6 separate regions of the Homo sapiens genome follow, and regions 2, 3, 4, 5 and 6 are each reported to be linked to region 1. Evidence: microRNA targets listed by miRTarBase, many of them from high-throughput screens and not tested one by one. Region 1 holds a microRNA gene; each other region holds the end of a gene's coding sequence.
What was found. Region 1 holds the annotated microRNA hsa-miR-3666 (CAGUGCAAGUGUAGAUGCCGA, at 2,049-2,069, opposite strand). A microRNA usually pairs through its seed, bases 2 to 8, with sites in the 3' UTR of a target mRNA and lowers its output. Matches are read on the target gene's strand: a 7mer-m8 pairs with bases 2 to 8, a 7mer-A1 pairs with bases 2 to 7 and ends in A, and an 8mer does both.

Region 1 (4,090 bases):
CGCAATTAGCAATTCTTTCATGTGTGGTTTATGTAATGTAATACTTCAATTACATTATTCATTCAGGTTCTGTTTTGGATTATAGGCTGAAAATTCTTTATTAGTGTAGATGTAACCATGCTGCTGGAGTTTTAAAAAATTTACTGATTGAATAATTAATTGGAAAAGAACAAGCTGCAGATTCCTGATGGATTTATGAGACAATTATTCTGTCTTGTGATTATCTACATTATACTATAGAAGCAATGAGGGAAAAAATCTTATTGAAAAGATAGTCATAAATACATGATCAAAAATATCCTCAAAAGTTTATTTTTTAATTAAAAACTCAGACATTTTAGAGTTTAAAAAGTAGTATGTCAGATTCAAAAAGATACATGTCTTTTTTCTTCCTATAAAAATGTTTTTACAGTACTCTACCTTTAAATACAGTACAAAGGAAAAGCAGAAATAGCTTAGCAGAGTTTAAATATAATCTCTACCAAAAAAGTAAATTTTGAATGATATTAATTGATAAGAAATATCGAGACATTACGAGAAAATTAGACAATATAGTCGTCTTCTGTCTCCTCCCCAACTACAAAGCCAAATGTTCGTTTTTTACCTAAAGAAATAGAGGGAGAGGCAAGACTGGCAATCATTAATCATCAGGCTATACAGGGGCCTTATTAAAAAGTATCCCACAAACTTTCATTAAACTAGAGTTACCCAGTTGATTACTCTAAGTTTCTGTGCAAACATCAGCTGAATGAGATAAAGTATATTCTTTTCAACAGTCTGTGTATCTGACTACATTATTAGGTTGAGCTTAAATCTCATATATTTTTGAGGGAAACTAGTCTTAATTTTCTATAATCACCCACTTCTTTTTGTGATAAGCTCTCTAAATTAACATTATGTATAATGTACAATAAAACATATCAATATGTGAAATACATCTTAACTGAAATAACCAAAGAAATAGGACAAAATTGGCTATAAAAATACCATGACCTTTATGACAAAATATTTGATAAAAATCTATTTATATGTATCTTATGATTGATCTGCCTTCTTCAGCACACCACATACATTTCTATTTGTGATTTGTACGTTACTACTTTTCAGGTTGCTCAAAGAGGGTTTCCTTTTAATATCTGTAAACCTATCACAGAAAGAAATTCTCTCTGGCTTCAGCCCCAAGGCAGTGATTTGTGCACTGATAGGTGTACTTTGTTTAGTGTCACCCATGGTGTAGATTGGATAGATTTTGTAAAAGATAGCATTACTTTAAAAGAAACATACAATTTGACAAGCGATTACATTTTACTTTCATTTTATTGCCGTATTTTTCATCACACTCATTGTTTTCTAACTGTCACTAAATTGTTCATTTTCTTAGTCTGTTACATTGGTAGAGCTATTTACTGTTTATAAAGCAATATGCACTTACAGGTTTGGGAGATGGTTTGGGCTCTGAGGGTCGCATGTGCAAGTGGGTCATCATTGCTTGAAGACGTTCGCGTTCTTTAGAAAGCTGTTAAGAAAGAGTGAGATCAGAAGCGTTTTAGAAATGACTGATACAGCTATTTTATTGCAGTGATACATCTTATCATTGAGCTTGCCTCAGAATAATGATTCCTGCATGTAAAAGTCTGCGTCAGGAGGAACTTATCTGGGAGGAAATGCAACTTTAGCTATGGAGGGGGAAAAACTTTTATAGCTTTTCTTATGTTAAAAGGTCAGAGAAAACAAATAACACTTCATCTTTTTGTCAATAAGAGAATTGAGGTCACAGTTGCCTCGACAGTAACAAGTTACTGAAACCATAAATTAGAAGGCCCATGGTGTCTCTTTAAAGTCCTGTGGACACTGTTAGCAATGGACTAGTGCCAACAGCTGTGAAGGGGTGAAGGGTTCTCAAAGCAAAGTGCCTGCCAGGATTGTCTACACACTTCATGCATTCCCACTGAGGTCCAGTTAGTGCCCCCTGCAATCTGCCATCATCAATCTAATTCAATAGAGTGACAGAGACCAGGCAGTGTGAAACGCTGAACTCTGCCACGGAGTCGGCATCTACACTTGCACTGGGTCTCATTACAACTGACGGACCTTACTTTTCCATCAGTCAGACACAGCAGAAGGAAAAAAAAAAAATAGGCGTAATTGGTCACACCGAAGACTGTATCATCAGCTGAACTCTTATGTTTTAGTCTACCTTTTATAAATGGTAAACAGGTTTATAAAAAGCTTTTTAAACTTTAACAGTGATGGTGCTTTTTGTGTTCTTGATTATTTTACAAGTCAAAACAAAATATTTTTAGTAAGCTCTCTGAAAAAAGCAATGACACGAATTTGAAACAAGATGTAATAAAATATGAAGAAAAATCGTATCTTTAAATGAAACAAAGTATTAGTTTCATTGAGAAAAGATCATCTTTAAGATGAAATGTTAGAGAAAGCCTTAAAGGCTTAGTAAAACATAACAAGAGTCAGACTTTGGGTGACATAATTGCTTTCTGATTAGTTCTATGGATTCTATTTACTTCTGGCCAAATTCTGTTTCAACATTAATAGAATTTTTTTTAACTTAAAACAGTCGCATTTGATACAACATGTGTGTATTATCATCTGTGATATAAATTATCTGCCTTTAATCTAGCTAAAGAAAAGTATAAAGATTTTTTTGCAAGTTCTTTAATTAAAATTACACTAGAAAAAGAAAAGAAAAGGTTATCTTTCAGGGTGTTAGTTATATTACAGGCATGATATTGTAAAGACTGGTCATTTGCCACAATATAAAATCTCATGGAAAAAAATCAAGGTTAGCTCATGTAAAAACTCTCTCTGTAATAAAATCATATCTAATTGGGAGTTTGGTCTAACCTGCATTGGGAAAAACTTAGATCTGACTACTTTGGGATATTCAAATTCATATGATGTGGTCTAAAAGTTATAAAAATATAAGTGATAAGTACATTAAACTACAGCAATCCTTCCTGGGTTATCAATAATTGCCACTGTTTAAAACAATCTAAAATATCATGTATCTCCATTAGTATTGAATGGCTAAGACAGTAAAATGCAGGCTGAAAGACCCAGAATCTGCTCAGTACTCAATGTAACACACCAGAAATCTAAGAAGAGTCCATTAAGTGAGCATTTAACAAACCTGTATTTCTAACTGTTGCACCACCTGCATTTGCACTCGACACTGAGCAGTGCTTCGGTCATCCAATGCGTGTTCATTGTTAAGGTGCCTAAACAAACAGAAGACACAAAACAGAATGTAAAGTGATGTCGATCTTAGTGGCATAGGCTACACTTAAAAAGCACTACACTGAAGTCAGATGTTTCTGTGCACTGGGAAAACAGAAAGCCTTGAAACCATACAGATAAAAGTTAAAGCTGCTTACGTGTTGTGTGAAAATTATTTATGTAATGTAAAGAGACTCTTCAAATGGCAGAAAATGTCACTGTCTCTAAGCTTACCTGTTATTACAAAAAATATTTCCCCAGACCATTTACAGAGTTATAGTAGAAGTCATATTATTTATGCCATTTTTTTAAAAAGAACAGCTTACAAATCTATGAACCAAAAGCAATTCTGAAGAGAACAAAGGCAATTTTCTATTTCATTGTTAGAACAGTTTGTTGTTTCTATGATGTATTTTAGTGAGCAATGTTTTATTTCATTGGGATGTGGTATGAATTAGGTAAAGATGGCAAATTATCTCCCGTGGAAAATCAATATTTATGAAGAATGATGATTTGCTGTTAGTAATAAAGAACTTCATTGAAGATTTTGATCATTAGAATAACAAGATTGACATTTCATGTCCAGTGTTCTAACTAGGAGACATTTGTCCTAATCTTATTTTTAAAATGGTGAAAAATAAATCATTCCAAATGATCTCACTCTAACCTTGAATATGCATTAGTCTACCATTATTATTTCTATACGATGTTTAAAGAGATCTCTTTAATGAGTGGTATGTTAATACACCAAAAGTAATTTAGTAAAGCAGCATCTCCAATGAACATGAAAACATTTAATAATATATACTCTGTAATTTGTAATACATAATGTCTTTGATGCTTCCCAAAATTA
Region 2 (4,090 bases), not on the chromosome of region 1:
CTCAAAAAAAAAAAAAATAGAAACATCATTACAAACTTGCTAATTCCAGAAACAATGTTCAGCAGGTTGATTGTTGTTTGAAATGTGTTAAATGCATAAATTATTTCCCAGGTGACCAGTTATCTAGAGGTAAACTTAACTGAAAATCTTGGGCCCACCAGTGCTCAGGAACCACTGTGGCTGGGGGAAGACAAGACGTGGGAATTTACAGAGGCATAATTTCAAATCTGTAGCCCTAGAGTCCAGTAGTTCCTCAGAAGATGTTGATAAAAATACATTGCCTAGCATTTGATAAGCATTTAATAATTTTAAAAAATTTAATAAATTACCAGAATGGCAATTCTATTCCTCTTAAGTATAGAAGGATCGCTGTATCTCAATCTTTAAGTTTACAATCCAGAAGATTTGCCTATTTCGAAATGTGGTTCAGCCCCTTGCTTTATATAATTCTTACAATATACATTGTATAAAAGCAAGGATAAACAAGGAAAACAATTAACTATCATTGGCTATTTTATGCCCAATTCCACAAATGATTTTACTAAACACAGAGGACATTTGATGCAGCTGAGAAAGGATCTGAGGGCCAGAGTTTGTCCTTAGTGGGAGAATTTAAAAGCTTGCACTGAACCAGAATAAATAAGTACAATGGCAAGCAGGAAGATAAACCACAGGAAAACAGGACCAGTCCCTGTAGAAGTTCCAGACTTTTGAGGTATGTTCAGACAAAGCTGGCTATTAGACCAAAAATAAGCTGCCCCTGTTAACAAGTGCTTCCTGTTCTTGTCAGGTTTGGAGGTAGTGGTTACCAGGGCTCGGTCCTGACAAGCTGCTGCTCTGTGGGCCAAGCTTCCCCTTAGAAGCTCTGAGTACCTCTGAGCCTGTGGGAAAGGTCACAGTAAGAGTTCTGTGCAACCACCGTCGGTAAAACCTTTGGAGAGGCAGATGTCGACTATAAGCTCCCACCTCAGAGAGCAGGATGAACCTACCCAGATGTTTCCCAGGCCAGGCCTTTAGGCCTCTGGAAAACAGCTGCTGCCGCAAACACAGCTCCACAGCCTGCTGTTGCCTCGTGCTAAACCCAGCACTAGCCACTGGGGAGCAGCCTGTCGCTGTCCCACAGGCCTGCGCTAGCTTCCAGGGAATTCTTGGAGCTGTACTAATACTGCAGAAAAACTAGTTTAGCCTTGGCTTTCAGAAGATGCCAGTGACAATGGAGTACATTGCCCTAAAGCAGTATTTTCAAAATGTGCATTGTGGAATCCATTTGGTCTAAGATCAAAATAAATTTTTAATGAAACAGAAAAAGGTCAGAGTGCATCACACATATCATGGATAAACCAGATTTTGGTTTCTAATACCACTCCCATTAAAAGAAGCCAGGGCTCCTTGCAGAAATAGCTGATTCCAGGGCTAGGGCAGGATAAGCACAAGATAAGCCTGAAGCATCTTGTTAGGATAGAAATAAAAAAGAAGTACTCAAAAAAAAAAAAAAAAAAAATAGCATATCACCAGGATGTAGGAGCCAGCTTGAAGGGTCTCTTGTCTAGCTAAAGCTGAGACCATTTGTGCACCAAAATAATGAATTGGAACCACTGAAAAAGGCCAGGCTTGGTGGCTCATGCCTGTAATCCCAGCACTTTGGGAGGCCAAGGTGGGGGGTTTGCTTGAGCCCAGAAGTTTGAGGCTGCAGTGAGCTAAGATTGTGCCACTGCACTCCAGCATGGGTGACAGAGTGAGACACTGTTTCAAAACAAAACAAAGCAAAACAACAGTCCATGAGTGTATAATGAAAATTAAATGAATAAATTGGGAAGGAAGGGCTTCTGCTTATAGTAGATTACCAAGTGCAACCTGTAAAGCTGGAGAATGCGCTAGAATTGGAAAATCATTTTGCAAACATAGTAAAAGATCAGTGCAGGTAAGAAACATCAATGCATGCTAATTTAACGGGACACTTTCATAGGCAAGAGATTTGCATGGTCTGAAAGTCTACATATACTGGTTATAAGTTCCAGGTAGGGGGATATACAGAGAAGTTGGACACCTTGACCAAGTGATCAAAATTTACCACTATCAATGAGGGGGCAGATGGATATCAAGTCATTATGGGCAAAAACACATAAACTGATTCTAAATATGAGGAAATATCAAACTGAGTTGTTTTCTGTTAAAAAAAAAAAAACAGGGTGGGGTTGGGGGTGGCTACATTCACCAAAAATATCAATGAGGCTGAGTGCGGTGGCTCACACCTGTAATCCTAGCAGTTTGGGAGGCAGAGGATGGCGGATCACTTGAGATCAGGAGTTGGGAGGCAGAGGATGGCGGATCACTTGAGCTCAGGCCTGGCCAACATGGTGAAACCCTGTCTCTACTAAAAATACAAAAAAATTATCTGGGGGTGGTGGCGGGCGTCTGTAATCCCAGCTACTCCGGAGGCTGAAGCAGGAGAATCGCTTCAACCTGGGAGGCGGAGATTGCAGTGAGCCGAGATTGCACCACTGCACTCCAGCCTGGGTGACAGAGCGAGACTCCGTCTCAAAAAAAATACATATCAATGACATAAAAGATCAAGATGAGTCATGACAGCCATAGCCATGTCTGATTCTATACTGGAAGGTTTACTGGAGGGAAAAAATGCTACAAAGAACATCACTGGGCAGATGCCAGGTTAAAGTATCAAATCCATGTTTGACTGAAGTAGAGAACTGTCCTACAGTTGTGTAAGAGAATATCCTTATTTTTAGGAAATAAGCATTTAGGAGGAAAGGCCTATGATGTACGCAATTTACTCTCAAATGCCTCAATTTTTTATGGAGAAGGAGAAAGGGAGAGAGAAACCCTGACAAATCAAATGGGACAAAATGTTAATAAGTGAACAAGAGGGGAATCTGGGTAAAGTGTGCGTGGGGTTTTTTGTACTTTCAACTTCCTAGAAGTTTAAATTATTTCTCAATAAAATGTATTTTTAAATTCCTCCAGTATTTATAACTAAAAATGTCCTGGGTGTATTCCATCAGCATTCACAGAAATACCCAGTTGAATACCTGCCATCCACACGGGCAGATCTCCAGCAATCCTGAACTCACCTCTGCTCTCCACATGACATTTACACTGAGTTGCCCTTCCGAAACTGGAAGAGTAGATTAAGCCCTTGAGTCTTCGATTCACTTCAATGAATAATCTGGTAAAAACAAAAATCTAAGTGTGACTTCTACTTGATAAACAGCTGTGATGTAACTGGGACAAGATCAGTGTGGAATTATCCTTTTTATACCAATTCTGTACAAAGAGTGCAAGAACTGATGCTTTATATTTTATTTCCCCTCTGCCCTCCCATCCCACCCTTGGTGATGGTTGTACCCATTTGAGCATTTCTGAGCACATGACCATAAGTAAATCTTGAGAGAGGAGCGGAATTCTTGTCTAAACAGTAACAGAAGGGGATTAGCTGCAAGGATAGCATAACTGTTGTGCAGGAACAGAAGCTGCCCAGATCTTCTTGGTGGACAATGCATAGAAGACTTAGAATTATGGAACATCGGTCCCCCCAACCACCCTTTCCCACCCGTCTCCCAAACCCCCACTCCCACCCTATTCCCCACCCCATTAATAGTGTTAACAAAAGCTTAATCTTCCAGTTTTAAAGTGCAAATGATTTGGGTATGACTGCTGTTGCAACAAGTCTGAACAGAAAAAAATGAAGTCTTCTCTGTTTATACGATGTTTTCCAGAATATAAAAGATGAGTTCCATGACAACGGGGCCCTCACTAAGCTGGCAGGCCCCTCCATGGATCACCGGCACCAAGGCGCTGTCCAGATCATTCATGTACTGCGAGGGAAGGGGCTGGCCATTGCTCCCTGCTTGATAGCCAACCTATACCACAGAGAGAAAAGGAGGAGAGGTTACTGAACAGAGAAGGCCTCTCCAGGGCTGAGGGCAAGGAGGCTGAGCAGGAAAGGAGATGTCCTTTTTGGCCATAGGCTAAACATATGGCAGTGAATACAAATTTATCCTCTTTTCTGGGTGATCACTTATCCTGTTGTTTACTCCTCCTGACCACTTGACAACCATGAGGCACTGGGTAA
Region 3 (4,090 bases), not on the chromosome of region 1:
TATATATGCTTGTATGCAGCCTCGAATATACCATCAATCCTAGTTTCAGGTAATCATCATTATTGTCCCTGTCTCAACCATGTGTAATCATCACCAATGGAGCTAGTTCACCCGTTTTCTTAATATATAATGGAGGGTTGGCTATTTTACTGAAAATAGGGGCCATTGGGCCAACCTCAGTACAAGGATTTTCAACCTTAGCTTCAGATTGGAATCATGTAGGAAATTTAAATTTTTTTAATAGCCCAGCTACACTTCTCATCAATGAAATCAGCATCTTAAGAGGTGGGACAATCTTAGGCATCAGTATTTCCTCAAAGCTCCCCAGTATAATTTCAGTGTGCAGCAAAATTGAGAACTATTTTCAGAGAGCTAAACAGATCAAACTTCATATCACTTGTCCATCCCAACCATGCCAATTAATACCCTCAGTAAGGGCTTGTTGGCTAAGATTACAACAGTGAAATAGTTGAGAACTGTCACTATATCTGTCCCAATTCTGATCTGTCCTGACCTAACGTGGTCTGCACAAACCAAACCAAATTTGCTAACGTTGCAGAAAGAGCCATCCAGTTTGAAGATGGTTCCAGCACCTTCGCCTCTGGGCCTATTTGCTCAGGGAGTTAGTATTGAGGTTATTTATCCAAACATTGCCACTCAGGCTGTGTTAATAAAAATCACCTGTGTAGTTTGAGAAACTTACAGATTCTCCATTTCTGTCTTCCAATCATTCTGATTTTATAGATCTGACGCGTGGCCCAAATATCTGTGCCTTTAAGGGACTATCCATGTAAATCTGATGTGAAGCCATGTTTGGAACCCATGTTAAATTCTCACATTGCTATAAAGAAATACTCAAGACTGGGTAATTTATAAAGAAAAAAGTTTAATTGGCTCACAGTTCTTCAGGCGGTACAGGAAGAATGATGCTGGAAACTGCTGGGCTTCTGGGGAGGCCTCAGGAAACTTACAGTCATGGTGGAAGATGAAGGAGGGGTGGGTACTTCACACGGCTGGAGCAGGAGCAGGAGAGAGGGTGTGGGGTGGGGTTGGTGGGGATGCTACACACTTTTAAACAACCGGATCTTGCGAGAACTCGCTATCATGAGAACAGCACCAAGAAGATGGTGCTAAGTCATTCATGAGAAATCTGCTCCCATAACCCAATCACCTCCCACCAGGCCCCACAACCAGCATTGGGGATTACATCTTGACATGTGATTTGGTAAGGACACAGATCCAAACCATATCAATGGTCTTTCCCCTAAAAATATACCATTTGTATATACCTGTATATATAAATAAAATATCTCAGGGATTTTGACTGGAGAGGGTGTAGGGGCAGTAGGAGAGGAAGAAAGAAAGAAAAAGAAAGAGATGAAAATTTCTGGAATCAAGTCCTGTCTCATAAGCTAAGTTATCAGAATCAAAGGATGAAGTATTCTGACACAAAGGGCTAGTGAATCTTGAGAACTCTGGATTTATGCATCTACTGTAGAGGTCGTCAGGGATAATATGATGATAGCAGGGCAGCAGGGAGGGAGCTCTTAGTAATAGGAGCTGATCAAGATCCAGAGCACTGTAAGGTCAGAAACAGAAATTTTCTTTTAATGAGTATAAAAGAGTTTACATGAAATGAGAATTAAAATATACAAGATACCAGAAAAAAAAACCTGTAACTTCTTAATAGGAACAAAATAACCAACTAAGGTATTTTAATTATTAAAAGTAGATTTTTTTAATTAGAAATAGAGGAATGAAAGAACTTATTTTTCTCATGGGAATAAAACGAAACCCAAATGTGTGAGAGTCAGAGGCACAGATTTTGACCTTTAAGAAATAATTTTATCTTTGTGAGAATGCCAGGGGCAAACTGCTAAAGAGAAATGGAAGAATCAAGTTTCTTCTTTAATCCATGTGTATATAACTTATGTTTGAATCCCGTATAAGAACTAAGAAACACTGTTTACTTGAACTATGATAATTGTCTGTATTTAAAAAGTTGTGCTTAAATATATTGTTTGTAATTTTTACTAAATTTTCACACTTGACATTTTTCCTTTGTTCTAGAGTTTCTGTTGGTGCCTATATAAAACATTGATTAGTTGATAATTTTAAATATTTAGAGAATAAGAAGCTACTAGATGGTATGTATGAAGTGGTAGTTTCAAAGGACTGTCAAAGTATTGAAATGCATCTAACTTTGAATTTAGATTATATCAATTTTCCAGTAAATTCTAGATTTCTGATCTAGCAAAATCAGTATCAAAGGCTAATTTATCATTATTTTCTTCCTATATATAGCTATGGAACTATGTGAAGATAAATGGAAAACTACATCCTTTACCAGTACTCTGAAATCAGCAATTTTGTTCCAGGAAAAATCTTGAACCCTAGATTTACAATATTTAGCATCTAGTGTGCAGGAACACTGACAAACTGTGATTCAGGAAAGGTCTAAATAATTAAAGATAATGGTTCTTCTATTTTGATGTCTTCAAACAGTTTATTAGGACTTTTCTGAGGGAAACAAAATATCAATTGTAAGAGAATATATTTTTATAATAATACCCAGATTACAAAATCAATAACATCAATATTACTAATTTAAATAAATGACAAACACATAAATATTGGCCAGGGGCAGTGGCTCACACCTGTAATCCCAGGATTTTGGGAGGCTGAGGCTGGCAGATAGCTTGAGCCTAGGTGTTTGAGACCAGCCTGGGCAACATGGTGAAACCTCGTCTCTACAAAAAAATACAAAAATTAGCTGAGCATGGTGTTGCATGCCTGTGGTCCCAGGTATTCGGGAGGCTGAGGTGGGAGGGATCGATTGAGCCCAGGAGATTGAGGCTGCAGTGAGCCAATCACATCACAATACTACAGCCTAGGCAACAGAGTGAGACAGTGTCTCAAAAAAAAGTAAATATTAAATTATTATGCCTAGATTATAAATTATCTAAATTTTAAAGATTAATAAGAACGCTTATTTTCATAGGGTTGTTGGAGAAGAAAAGCTATTTTGCAAGTGCAGGGCGACACTTAGCTGGTTCACAGTGGTACAAACATTTGCTAAAATAAAATATTTCCAAATCAGTTGATACAGTGCTGCAGCCCCAGCTACCAGGACCCTTAGCCTGGGATCCCCCAGACCTCCACATGACCCAGCAACTATCACAACAGGCATCTCTTGGACCTTGTTCTAGTGCTGTGGCCTGTGTTTTTAAATATTTAAATATCACCCTAGTTTTTAAATATTTAAATATCACCCTAGTGCACACGTGACAGTATAATAATAATGAAAGAAAGGAGTCTTTATTTGAGAAAGCAAAGAAATTCAGTGAAATGATTCTGAGACAATCATAGGGCCATAGTATGGCTATTCCCCTTTGTCCCCAGGTATAATTTTAAGACCGAATAATAACATCAAATCAGAAGACGTCAGACAAGGAACTGGAGAATGTTCTGTTAAACAAGTTCATTTGTCTGATAATGTAAATACACAGTCATTTTAAAAGCTGGTTTGGCTCTGGTACCGTAGTTTCCTCTTTCCTCATATGAGCTTACTCACAAGTCTCTTACTTCTTGGAGAATTTGGAAGAAGCATACTAATCCAAATCCTCAGTCTTCACTGGGGCAGCTGTCTTCTCGCAAATCCAAAAAATTTCAGCACTACAGCGAGAAATATAAATATTTCCTTTTTGAAAATAAGCACATCCTTTGGATCCATTGATCTGGTCAAGTTCTTTAGTACTAAATCTGAAAATTAATTTAAAATTAATTATAAATTCTGTATTTGAAACGTGATCACTATTTAGTGCCCTCAGTTGCTCTTACAGCCAATGTCATGTATCTGAATATGGAGAGACTTCTGCCTCCACAAAGCTTCAAAATCTGAAGCTGCCTAAAGCTGGCACAAAATCTGCCCAGAGCTGGCACATCTGGGTTCTTTATTTTAAGTTAATCATAATCCCAGGTAGAATTCTTTAAGAGAAATACTTAAATCCTGGACTGAGAATTTGTATTTCCTTCATAAATATGTAATTCCATTAATGAAATCTAATCAGTTCAGCTTATATTAGAAGTA
Region 4 (4,090 bases), not on the chromosome of region 1:
CGTCGCTGCACGTGGCCTGTGAGCTGGCGCGCCCCGAGTGCCTCTTCCTGCTGCTGGGCCACGGCGCCTCGCCCGGTCTGCGGGACGGCGGCGGCCTCACGCCTCTCGAGCTGCTGCTGCGCCAGCTGGGCCGCGACGCCGGGGCCACTCCCTCCGCCGCCGGAGCCCCCGCCTCAGCTCCCGGGGAGCCGCGCCAGCGCCGCCTGCTGCTGCTGGACCTCCTGGCGCTGTACACCCCCGTGGGTGCCGCCGGCTCGGCCCGCCAGGAGCTGCTGGGCGACCGGCCGCGCTGGCAGCGGCTGCTGGGTGAGGACAAGTTCCAGTGGCTGGCGGGCCTGGCGCCGCCCTCGCTCTTCGCGCGCGCCATGCAGGTGCTGGTCACCGCCATCTCTCCAGGCCGCTTCCCCGAGGCCCTGGACGAGCTGCCGCTGCCCCCATTCCTGCAGCCGTTGGACCTCACTGGCAAAGGCTAGGCCCGGAGCACCCTAGGCGCTGGATTTTGGGACAAAACTATTTTTCAGAGCGTTGTACCGGCACTTTATATATATTGATCTCTGTACGGCACAATCTCTGCCTCATCTGTCGCATGCACTGGGGGCTGGGCTTGGATGGTCAGGTGAGTTCCAAGTGGCAGGTTTTCTGGGTGCAGCTGGGCTCGGGCCTTCAGCTCGCTGTCCAGCCCCTGAAGGGAGTGAGGACTAACCTCCCACCTTGATCTAGAGCCTCGGACAGGTGTGCGTCCCAGATGGGTGACAGCTGAGTGCCGCAGGAGCTCGGTAGGTGCAGGGGTGGGGACTGGCATGTCCAAGCAGCAGGACAGCGTATAAAAAGGCCTGGAAGCCAAGAGAACGAGCTCTGCAGCGTAGGGTTCTCACGGGAGGTCCTGTGCGGTCAGCCTTTTGCACCCTGTGGACTCCGGGCCAGGGAGGGCACACAGGGCTGGCAGGCCCGCGGTGGCTGGTGTTGAGGCATGAACAAATTGTACCGGGTATCCCCCACCCCACTCTGACCACCAGTTCCTCCTTGGATATCACTCCCCCTGACAGGCAGCCCACCCAGGCCTGGATTTGTCCCTGTCTCCCCCTTTTGCTTTTCCCCCATGACTAATGGGCACCAGGTCTTGCTGCTCCTGCTTCTCACCTCTGCAGTGGCAGCAGGCCCCTGGCCCCAGGTGCATGCCGGTCAGTGGGGTTGGATGTGCCTTCCTCCAGGCCTGCCCTCTGTCCAAGCCCGGAGTGGGCTTGGTGGGCTCCCTGGTGGCCCCCAGTGGGTGCCAGGTGGTGCCCGGGGTTATTGAGGGGTGGTTGTATCACTGTAGGGACAGGCTTCTTGCCCCAGCCTGGAGAGCTGTTTTCTTCAGGAAGGTTCTGGAGATGGAGACTTGTTTGCGAATTCACCACAACTCCAGGCTGGGAGGCTGGGTCTCCGCTCTCAGAGCCGAGACACCAGGGAGGATAGCCAGGCTGCCCTGCCTGGGAATTCTGCTGGGCCGTCAAATTCAACCCGCACCAACGTGGGCAGGAGGGCCACAGTGTCCTGCCAGGAGCAGAGGGCTGAAGGTCTGCAGGAGGAAGAACCACTATCCTGGTGGGGGGCACCTGCTGCCCACCCTGCCCCCAGCGTGCCTGGGGGGAGCACACCTGGGCATGGAGGAGTCCAGGGTGCTGGGCCACACAAGAGAGGTGGGGGAGAGGCCTGGACAGTAGGAAGATCTTGCCCAGGGTCCTGGATCCGCCACTCTGGGGGTGACCTTGGACAAACCTCTGCCTTGGCCCTCAGTCTCCCCATCAAGGTTTTTCCATTCAGGAGGTTTTGGGCCATCTTCAGCCACCCTACCAGCCCTGAAAAGGATGTGACTCCTGTTTCTGGGAAGTGTGTGGTGTGTTAGGTGGGCCTACAGCCCTGGTTGTGGGGAGGGAAGGATGGAGAGACAGCACAGTGACAGAGCCCAGACTGCAGGCTGGAGTGAGGGTTCCACTTCCCCGCTGCTGTGTGTCCTGGACCAGTGCCTCTGAACCTTGGCACTTGGGGCAGTGGATATTAACATCTTTCCAAGCCCAATTCTTGGGGCATCAGGGCCTCCGGTCCTCTGGGAGGTGGCAGGTCCTCAGATTGGAGATGCCATGGGGGGGGGAGGTGCCTCTCCTTTGGAGGGTATGGAAGTGGAGACAGGAGTGGCCTGGCGCAGCTGCCGTGGTTCTTAGGGGCTGGGCCCGGGGAGCCCATGGGGCTTGTGCCTAGAAAGCCTGGGCTCCTCACTGGGGTCTAGATGTGCAGACTTCATGTCTCCCCAGCTCCAGCTCTGTTCTCTATAGGTCAGCCTCCACAATGCCAGAGGCCCAGGGCTAGCCCCCTCCACGTCCCTCCTAGATCTACAGCTGCCCCTTTGATGACAGCGCCATTGAGTCCCCTGGGCTGGGGGGGTCATGCAGGGGTGAGGCAGCTGCCTGCCGCCGGTACTCATTGCCTGGCCAGGCAGGACACAGGCTGGCGGGCACTGAGAGTGGGCCCCACGAAATCCATTGTCAGGTTACCAGGATGAAGAACCCAGGCTGGTCGTGGAGTGCAGGGCGGGGCCTGCCGGAAGAATTATGGGCACTGCAGCAGGAGGGCAGCCTGGGCCATTAGCTCCTGATGTCATCGATTTGGGTGAGGGGACAGGGAAGTCAGAGGAAGCTGGCCAGTGGCTCTCACGAAGACTTACAGCAGCGGAGTGGTGCCTGATTCCTAGTACAGCTGCTCCCACTGAGTCTCCAGGGATCTGTGGTTCAGGACCCCCTGCAACCCCCTCCCAGACCCCTGTACTGGTGGGAGGAGAGGACCTAGAGGAAAGGTGCTGGGCAGATAAGCAGCCGAGGGAGGCCCTGGGTTTAGCTTATCAGTCTTCTGGGCCCTCCTGCCCCAGGAAGGGCAGCGAGGACCATGGTGTTGCCCCTGTCATCGTTATCGTCCTGGCCATGAGCTTGCAGGACTGGGAGGGCCGGAGTCAGCCAGGCAGACGGCAGCACAGCATTTGCCTGTTGGCAGGTGGCCTTGGTGGCTTCCCAAAGGCAATCGCTCCACGCAGAACAAAACTCACTTTTTTGGGGGGTGAAGCACCTTGGTTCATTTGTTTAGTTCGTTAATTCCAGCAGTCTGTTTCTAAGGGAAACATGGCTGCAGCCGGTCCTGCCCCTCCACCCACCCACCAGGTGCCCAGTGTTCCCAAGGGCCCCGAATCCCAACCTTATTCAGGCGTCAGCATCTCTGCACCCCAAATGCCTGTTAGGGAGGATAGTGAAGGCTGAGCCCTCCTGGGCTCATCAAAAGCCAGCAGTGAGAGAACACCCCCATCTCTCTGAGGTGACCTTGTAGGGCAGTCCGTGCTGTCTGGCTGGCCTGGGTGAGGTGGGCAGGGACCAAGGCCTGGCGCCTGGGCCTCGCTGGCCTTGCTCTGCGTGCTGACTTCATCCTGATAGTACCTTGATTTTCCTACTGTGACTTCCCCTTCTGTCGACTTCCTCACCAACTTTAAAATTCCGTATTGAGAGCAGTTTCCTAAGTTACCTCAAATCCTATTCAGAAGAAGGTTCTTCCTGGAAGTTGGGAGGGCGGAAAACAAGTTTAGTCACAGAAGACTACTCCATGTTTGAGCTTCTGTTTCAAGGGAAGTGAGTAACTGCCGGAGGAGCCCTGCCCCTCTGCAGTGTGTGGTGTTGCCCTGATACTTTTCAGATTGAGGTGTTACTTACATGTAATAAAATGCACAGACTTAAGTGTATACTTTGATGAGTTCTGATGAATGTCTACATGTGTGTAATCACCACTGCAATCAAGATGGAAGGAAAGGCTGGGCGCGGTGGCTCACACCTGTAATCCCAGCACTTTGGGAGGCCAAGGTGGGTGGATCATGAGGTCAGGAGTTCGAGACCAGCCTGACCAACATGATGAAACCCCGTCTCTACTAAAAATAAAAAAATTAGCCAGGCGTGGTGGCAGGCACCTGTACTCCCAGCTACTCAGGAGGCTGAGGCAGGAGAATTGCTTGAACCCAGGAGGCGGAGGTTGCAGTGAGCCAAGATTGCGCCATTGCACTCCAGCCTGGGCGACA
Region 5 (4,090 bases), not on the chromosome of region 1:
GTCTTTTAAAAAATGATAAGGGGAAGGCTGGGCATGGTGGCTCATGCCTGTAATCCCAGGACTTTGGGAGGCCGAGGTGGGGGATCGCTTGAGTCCAGGAGTTCGAGACCAGCTTCAGCAACATGGTGAAACCCCATTGCTACAAAAAATACAATAATTAGCTGGGTGTGGTGGTATGCGCCTGCAGTCCCAGCTATTTGAGAGGCTGAGTTGGAAGGATCGCTTGAGCCAGGGAGGTCAAGGCTGCAGTGAGCCTTGATCATACCACTGCACTCCAGCCTGGGCAACAGAGTGAGACCCTGTCTCGAAAACAAACAAATCACAAAACAAAAAAAACAAAACAAAACGGATTATAAGGTTAGGGCCCCCCCCCCACCAACCTTTTTCTATGCCCAAAGTAAGTATTTGTTGAAATACAACCTCTTCTAGGATAGACATCACATTGGGAGACATGTGATTTGTTAAAATGCCATCACAAACTGTTTAAAATCAGTAGCCATAGTATCTATATATAGTATCTATGTCACCTTCATCAGTTTAAATTTAAGACTCCAACAGGTTAATTTGTCTTTTTCAGTTTAAAACTTAAGATCCCATGAAGTGGCCGGGCGCGGTGGCTCACGCCTGTAATCCCAGTGCTTTGGGAGGCCGAGGCGGGTGGATCACAAGGTCAGGAGATCGAGACCACTCTGGCTAAGACAGTGAAACCCCATCTCTACTAAAAATACAAAAGTTAGCCGGGCGTGGCCGCGTGCACCTGTAGTCCCAGCTGCTGGGGAGGCTGAGGTGGGAGAATGGCGTTAACCCGGGAGGTGGACCTTGCAGTGAGCCGAGATCGCGCCACTGCACTCCAGCCTCGGCGACAGACAGAGACTCCATCTCAAAAAAAAAAAAAAAAAAAAAAAAAAAAAAAGTCCCATGAAGTTGGAAATTTCCAGTCTCTGTCATCTGAAAATCAGCAGTGAATGAAAAGGAGGCTTTAAGATGATCGGGATCCTAGATGCTCTTCCCTTTGCAGTAACAGAAGCTAATCCAATCAGTTCAGTATAGCAAATAATAAATTTATTAGGTGCCTACAAGTACAAAATACTGAAAGCCGCTGCAGGGGATTATAAAGATGTGTAAGAGACAAGCCCTGCCCTCAAAGAGCTTACAATCTAGGCAATTAGTCACACAAATAAGTTGTGATGGCGCTCTAAGTGACCTCAGCAGAGTTCTTGAAAATGTTCATATCCTTCAAATTCTTCTCTTGTCAAATTAAACAGTGGGAAAGAGAACTTTTGTGGCATTCACTGGTGACCCTGACTCTGCTTGCAAGCATCTTTCTGCTGTTGCACGTTGTCGTCATCCTCTCAGCGTCGTTTCCTAACTGGACCTTTGTTGGAGAGAATCTCCGTGCTTCCTGAACCTTCACCAGGGTTTCCTGTTTGGGAGTGGGTGGCTCAGTTGCAGTTTGGCCTTGGAATGATTTGCAGTCCGATTTTTCCTTCAGCAAATCGCTCTTTTGATTGTAGTTGATGCTAAAATGCTATGCTTTGCAATCTGTGGTTTTAAGGGTGGGAGTGAGATGCAATATTAAGGAAGGCAGCCCAGACTTTTCCCTTACTTTAAACATTTAATAATAGTGCACTTATTGATTATAATCTGTACAGATATAGAGCAAGTTATAAACCTCTTCCTTTTATTTATTTTCTTCACTTAGACTGTATTCACGTAAAGTGTATTTACAATAAGAAGAAAAAAGCCTTGAGGTACAAAACCCAAAAGAATATCTGAGGTATAAATACAAGTATATCTTAAATAATAATCTTTATCATGCTTTATCTATGTTTGAAAGCACAGTGGACATGTTTCTTAATAGAATGGTATATACAACATACAATCTTACAAATCTGGAAGCCATCAAAATTGAATATCCATGTATATCTTCATGAGGAACACTGATATCCAAAATACTCAAATTTTAAAACTCTAATCTGATGCCCTGCCCCAAAATTCTTCAAAGAACCTTTGAAATAACACTGAAAATGGTAACTAAATTATAACAAAATAAAAATCCTTCTTACAGCTCTCATTCATACATTATTCACTTTTGATCCATACACAATAAATTTACTAATACTGTCTCTTGAGTCAATCCTTACCATTACAGTAAAACCTGAATAAAGACCACCCTTCTAAAGGTTCTAAAAAACTTCACTGGTTTGGGTTGGTTTTCTTCTTGTTGCGTTTTACTATGATTACTATTTTTCATTACCACTTAAATATATTTCCAGGGCATTCTAAAGGAAAAAAAAAAAAAAAGAAATGTAGGAAAAATAAAATAAGACAAAAAGTCATAAAACCAGAAAACCTATTTGCTGATAAGAACAAGCCCAATGAATAAACACATGTGGCTTTCAGGAATGCCGTTAACAACCAAAGGCGGGGAAAAAGCCTTTTGTAGGTGAGTTAAATTTACAGGGATTTCCTTGGGACACACATAGTTTCCTATATTCCCAAACATAGTGTCTTAAGGCGTTTCTGTTACAAACACAAAAATGCAAAGAATTCTAACAGGGAAAAAGTGTTGATGCTTGATTTAAGAGTAAGTGTTATCGTGTTCAGTTTTTATATCTCGACTTAAACAAAAAACAAAACAAAACAAAACAAAACCCTGTGGATCAGAGCCAGTAAGGCTAGAGGGAGCAGTTCATCCCTGAACTAATCCATACTGGTTAAAACTACATCACTATTTGCAATCGGGTCTAAAAATAAACTGCATTTGGAATGGGTGTAAGAGCCAACCTATTACAATCAAAGTACAGAAGAGGTTCGTGGAAAAGGAATATGCTTAATAACTTCGAAAAAAAATACCCATAAATGGACAAGGGTGTTGGGCCCCCTTTCTGGGTGGATTCAGGGGTAGTCAGATATTCCAGGTTAAACTGAACCTGATGCATCAATCTCCTTCTTGGAGGTGTCTCAGTGTGCCAGACACTGAATCCACCTTAGACATCTATTGCCATTCAGCCAGCAACAAACACACATTCACACTCCTCTGTGCAAACCTTTCTTTGCTCATCTTGGTGAGAAAACACATCCAAGAGTACCAACTATTCCAGTGGATACACCAGTCCCTCAACACACTGCAAATAAAGCGACACAGGTACGCATACACTGATATCACAAGAGAATGAAGTATCTTCATTATCTTCCATAATGTATTTAAAGAGTTTTGCTTCTCAGAAGCAATTTGAATAAGAATACACATAAATTTTTTTTTTTTTTTTGCACAGTCTTACATATTCCAGTCAAGGTCTATGAATACAGACCCTCAACAAACAGGAAGCAGCTTTAAAAATGTATCAAATTGCTATAGTCAATTCCTACACTCCAGCTTGTAGTTTTCTTTGTTTCAGGATTAGACACAGAACCCATTCTTCAAGGACTGGCAAAAGTTCTAGAAACAAACACCATGGTGGTGGAAGCGGTTGCGTTGCTTCAGTGATCACCTAGATTTGGTGTCTTTGGTTTCAGTGTTCTGGTTACTGAAGGAATCCCGGATCTTTACAACTTCAGCTGCACACAAATGTCCAAAAGATTTTGTGTACCATTCTGGCATGTGGCCCCTATCAGAGAAAAGAAAGAAAAGCTGATGAATTATTTAAGTTAGAAAGCATGGAAATAAAATGAGAAACATCTGTTTGCTAGTTCAAATGCATAAAATCTATCATTTCCCATGCCTTTGAATTCATGGCCGAGCTACCATATTTGCTTTGCTTTAGAACCACATTTTCTAAGGGAACCAAATTACGAAGTGGTCGCTGAAAGACCAACAAACATGAAATGCTACTTTCTAAACACCATTCTTCATGAAGTCACCAAGAAAAAATGACGTGTTTGTTTAAGGCATTCTTTGCATTAGACAAAAAGTCAGAATTTCCTTCATGACCCTCACCATATAAAAAAATCAGAATCAGAACATACCTTAAGTCAACTCTGCACATGTAGGTGAGTTTGGATTTTCCTGGCCCACAGGGTTCAATCAAATACCTGGACAAGAGCACATTAACCCTCACACCCACCACAGGTGCGCGATCGTGATCCA
Region 6 (4,090 bases), not on the chromosome of region 1:
GTTTTGGATCTCATGATCCAATGTATTTTAGAATGTTTCTTTGTTATAACTTTTTACAACATGATTATGATGACATATTGTTAGATATTTCTATTGTTCCTGGAGGCTAATTATTATTTTCTGGTTTTTTCTCTGTTTTTTCTTTATAGTAACAAACTTTTTTTTTTCTCTTTACAGTGCCATTGATAATAGTAAACTCAATTGCAATTGTGTTACTTTTATTATTTGGATGAATATCAGTGGAGAAAATGGAGACTCAGAAGAGGACATGCCAGTAGAAGTTATTACTTTGGTCATTATTGGAATATTTATATCTTAGCTGGCTGACCTTGCACTTGTCAAAAATGTAAAGCTGAAAATAAAACCAGGGTTTCTATTTATCTGTTTTTTTTTTTAATGTTGCACTTGTAGTTTCATTACAAAAGATCAGATCATGAAAGGCAGTAACTCTCCAGGACTGGAATATCTGATTGCTCAGTGTTAATAGTAGTTCATGCTGTGGTGAGATTGTTAAAAGGGTGCAAGACTGTTGCTTCTCTTTTTTTAGATATTTTTCTATCTCTCACTTCTCAGGGATGAAATTCTTTTTCAAAGTTTTGAAGTTCCTTGCAACTTAGCCATGATGTGAGTGGTTATCCCTAGATAAAATTAAAAGGATTTTTAAAAAGTAATTACTGCACATAAAATGATAAATAGGTAATTTGAATAATTTTATTTTAAGCTCCTTGGTTAATTATTTTGTCTATTGTCTCAGCTATAAATTCAAATTTATACATACTATTGAGTATTAATATTCTCTGATTTCAGGGAGAATTCTGTCAGTCACATGATGATTATGTTTTTGTTTAACATTCTTTCCATGCACTTGTTATTTTATTAATTTGCCTGAATGATGAGACCAGACCAGTGTCTACAGATTTTCATTGTCAGAAAAATCTATAAGTCTGCCCTTTTTACAATGATGATTTAAAAAAAACAACAGCGTAAATATTAGCCCACAAGAGCAGTCCTAAACAATCACAATTACACTGTACTACCCAAGAAGACTGTTTATTGTGAAGCATTTACCTTTCAAAAAATCATTACATTTCTATTTCTTGGTGGAGCAGCACATTGTGGAGTGTGATTCTTAATTCTTCATTGAGTTTGTCAATAGGACATTGATGCTGGATAGGTTGTCTTTTGTTTTTATGTCTCAGACCATCTTGTGAGATTGTTTGCCTATCTCATAATACAGTTTTATGCAGAAAGGTTGAAACTATGTAAATGGTTTTTATGGAAATTATCAGTTACAATATTTTAAAGGTGTAGAATGGCATCTTTGTTTATAGGAGAACATTTGTAAATAAAGTTAAATTTCTAAGTCAAGCACTTGTTTTTGTACCTTAGTATAAACCTGTCAGTGTTAACTGCATTAATCTCCATTTTGGGTGAACACCTCTTATTATATGTTCTTTGCTGTAAAATTGCCGAGTATAGAGTTAATGAAAGTAAATATTTACATGTATTTTTTTTTCTTCAGTGAATTAACTGAATTGCTGACATACATCCAGAAGACTCATGAGCACCTTTTATTTCATGACTTCAGTTACTTCTAAAACTATGGAGCAGGTATTAAGTACCTTTTGGCCTTTCCTAAGTTAGAGATCAGTGATCTTTGGACTATAGGCTTGCAGCTAGTCCAAGGAAAGTACCAAGGATTCTTAGTTGATTACTTGGCTCATGTGAATGACTAATTTGGTACTTAGAGGCCGTGTTCTTTTAGCCTTACAAAGAACTGATGCCTGAGTTCAAGTTTGAGCTACTGAAAAGATTCAAAAGAAGCAGTTACTTGAGGGCAGGCCCATTTCCCCATATGGTATGAGCAGTACAAAATTTTTTAAAATGAAAGAAAAGAGAGACCTTGATCTGATGTTATTTTTCATATAAGACATTACAGCATACCTTCATCTTAATTCAGTGTTGGGATTTTGTCCAAATATTCCATCAGGGAGCAGTCACAGAAGGGCCAGGATCAAAGTATTCTGTAGCCAAGTAGTTCTGAGGAAAGTGAAGCACTGAACTGAACATCAAAATATGTCATATCTGGAGGCCACTTCATAATTCCAGTTTGTGGCTGAAGAGGGGTCTGTAAGCTTTCACTGGTCAGCCCTGGTTTCCCCAGAGCAGTTGTGATTCAGTAAACAGAGTGTGTTATTTTAGTAGACAGTAACTTAAGTGCCTGTTGGCCTGCCCATGTCCTCCCCTTTATCTATTACCAGGATTAACAATTTGTGATGATTCTGGACTCCAAATACCGATGATGTTTATAGTCCTTATGTATTCTGGCCCTGTGTTTGCATGTCTCTGAACTGTGCGAAGGTTCTTGGCTCTAGTCTGTAGATATTAACCAAATTCATCGCTAATCAAGTACAGTGGTTTTCAAACTTTTATAGTTAACAGCAGAACCAGATTTTCAAAGGAATTCTGACACAGAACTGTAACATTCCCGTATCTAAACCAGATGAGAGTAGGTCCATTTATTTGTTTTTAGTTGAAGTAGAGCTGGGATTCAAAGGCTCACTATTCAGCCTCCACTGCACTCTTGTCAGGCTTCCCAAGGCATTTCCATAAAACCCTAAATTTTCAAAAATATAGCTAAAAAGTATCTTATAAAAATCCCTGCTTTAGCCATAAAAAAGAATTAGATAATACCTTCTGTGGGAACATGGATGGAGCTGGAAGCCATCATCCTTAACAAACTAATGTAGGAACAGAAAACCAAATACCACATGTTATTACTTATAAGTGGGAGCTAAATGATAAGACCTCATGGACATAAGGAGGGGGACAACAGACACTGGGGGCTATTTGAGGGTGGAGGGTGAGAAAGAGTGCCAGAAAAATTACTGGGTACTAGGCTTAGCACCTGGATAACGAAATAATCTGTGCCAAACCCCCGTGACACAAGTTTACCTATTTAACAAATGTACTGTACCCCTAAAAGTTAAAAAAGTAAAAATATAAAAAAATAAAATCCCTGCTTTAGGGAGGGTGGGAGGGGGTGAGGGAAACAGAAACTACATACTGAGTACAATGTACAGTAGTCCAGTGATGGGTGCACTAAAATTTCAGACTTTACACCACTATACAATTCATCCATGTAACCAGAAACCACTTGTACCCCTAAAGCTATTGAAATAAAAAGCTAAATGAGTTCCCCCACCTTCCTCTCCCCATCAAAATCCTTGCTTTAGATACAATAAGAGTAGGCAATCTGTGTTCTATATGTGTTAGATGTGTATTACTGGTGAAATGACAAGAGAAAGCAAGATATTTGACTAGTAAAAAGACTAGGAGGCAAGATATTTCTAATATATCAAGCAAACCTTTTACCATGTGACTGAAAGCAAATAAACTTCCTAAGACCTCAGTAGTTTTTGGTTGTCCTATCTGTAAAATTGGTCAATAACCTTCAGAACAGAAGTCTGGTCCAGATATATATATATATCTTTTCCAGATCACTAATGTTTGTATCTAGATGTGCTTCAACCAAAGAGATGTTCTCCTTAAGTAAAATGTTTCTTATGAAGCAAATCACTTTCTCATTGATTTATTAGTTTCTAAGTTATTACCAATGTAACATTTTGAGGCTGGGCATGGTGGCTTACGCCTGTAATCCCAACATTTTGGGAGGCTGAGGCAGGCAGATCACTTCAGGTCAGGAGTTTGAGACCAGCCTGGCCAACATGGCAAAACCCTGTCTCTATTAAAAGACAAAAGTTAGTCGGGTGTGGTGGCACATGCCTGTGATTCCAGCTACTTGGGAGGCTGAGGCATGAGAATCGCTTGAACCCGGGAGGCAGAGGTTGCAGTGAGCTGAGATTGTGCCACTGCACTCCAGCCTGGCTACACAGTGAGACTCCGTCTCAAAACAACAAAAATAACATTTTGATACCAATGGTAATGGAATTCTTCTTTGCTAAGATTTCTCTTGGCCCCTGATTTTTCATTAGAAGTCAAATATTGTGAAAACATTCGATGCAAGGACCTGGGACACAGTGGGCTATGTCCAAGGGTATCAACGATCAAGATAAGTTTTTCCTACTGT

Region 2: miRTarBase lists ZFYVE9 as a target of hsa-miR-3666. Seed matches in the 3' UTR shown: 7mer-m8 at 3,648-3,654.
Region 3: the mRNA of CLEC12B is a reported target of hsa-miR-3666. The part of its 3' UTR that is shown has no 7-base or 8-base seed match.
Region 4: miRTarBase lists ANKRD9 as a target of hsa-miR-3666. Seed matches in the 3' UTR shown: 7mer-m8 at 4,069-4,075.
Region 5: miRTarBase lists DLC1 as a target of hsa-miR-3666. Seed matches in the 3' UTR shown: 7mer-A1 at 1,623-1,629.
Region 6: miRTarBase lists IER3IP1 as a target of hsa-miR-3666. Seed matches in the 3' UTR shown: 7mer-m8 at 330-336, 7mer-m8 at 400-406 and 7mer-A1 at 3,099-3,105.

The regions. Positions count from the first base shown.
Region 1 is chr7:114,651,352-114,655,441 of GRCh38, reverse strand. MIR3666 (microRNA 3666) reads right to left here and starts at 2,097; the gene lies at 1,987-2,097. It overlaps FOXP2 (forkhead box P2), which reads right to left. Exons shown (of 17, transcript NM_014491.4): 9 at 3,152-3,239; 10 at 1,433-1,516. RefSeq lists an enhancer at 1-388.
Region 2 is chr1:52,345,848-52,349,937 of GRCh38, reverse strand. It overlaps ZFYVE9 (zinc finger FYVE-type containing 9), which reads right to left. Exons shown (of 19, transcript NM_004799.4): 19 at 3,304-3,878. The coding sequence ends at 3,717. Among named protein-coding and RNA genes, the nearest start is that of CC2D1B, 18 kb to the left of the region's middle.
Region 3 is chr12:10,018,003-10,022,092 of GRCh38, reverse strand. It overlaps CLEC12B (C-type lectin domain family 12 member B), which reads right to left. Exons shown (of 6, transcript NM_001129998.3): 6 at 3,297-3,762. The coding sequence ends at 3,612. The region is part of intron 2 of LOC102724020 (a long non-coding RNA gene); the gene reads left to right. Among named protein-coding and RNA genes, the nearest start is that of CLEC12B, 9.4 kb to the right of the region's middle.
Region 4 is chr14:102,503,319-102,507,408 of GRCh38, reverse strand. It overlaps ANKRD9 (ankyrin repeat domain 9), which reads left to right. Exons shown (of 4, transcript NM_152326.4): 4 at 1-4,090. The coding sequence ends at 473. Among named protein-coding and RNA genes, the nearest start is that of ANKRD9, 4.4 kb to the left of the region's middle.
Region 5 is chr8:13,082,321-13,086,410 of GRCh38, forward strand. It overlaps DLC1 (DLC1 Rho GTPase activating protein), which reads right to left. Exons shown (of 18, transcript NM_182643.3): 17 at 3,970-4,090; 18 at 1,041-3,611. The coding sequence ends at 3,491. Among named protein-coding and RNA genes, the nearest start is that of TRMT9B, 140 kb to the left of the region's middle.
Region 6 is chr18:47,152,320-47,156,409 of GRCh38, reverse strand. IER3IP1 (immediate early response 3 interacting protein 1) reads left to right here. Exons shown (of 3, transcript NM_016097.5): 3 at 178-3,576. The coding sequence ends at 233. Among named protein-coding and RNA genes, the nearest start is that of HDHD2, 3.9 kb to the right of the region's middle.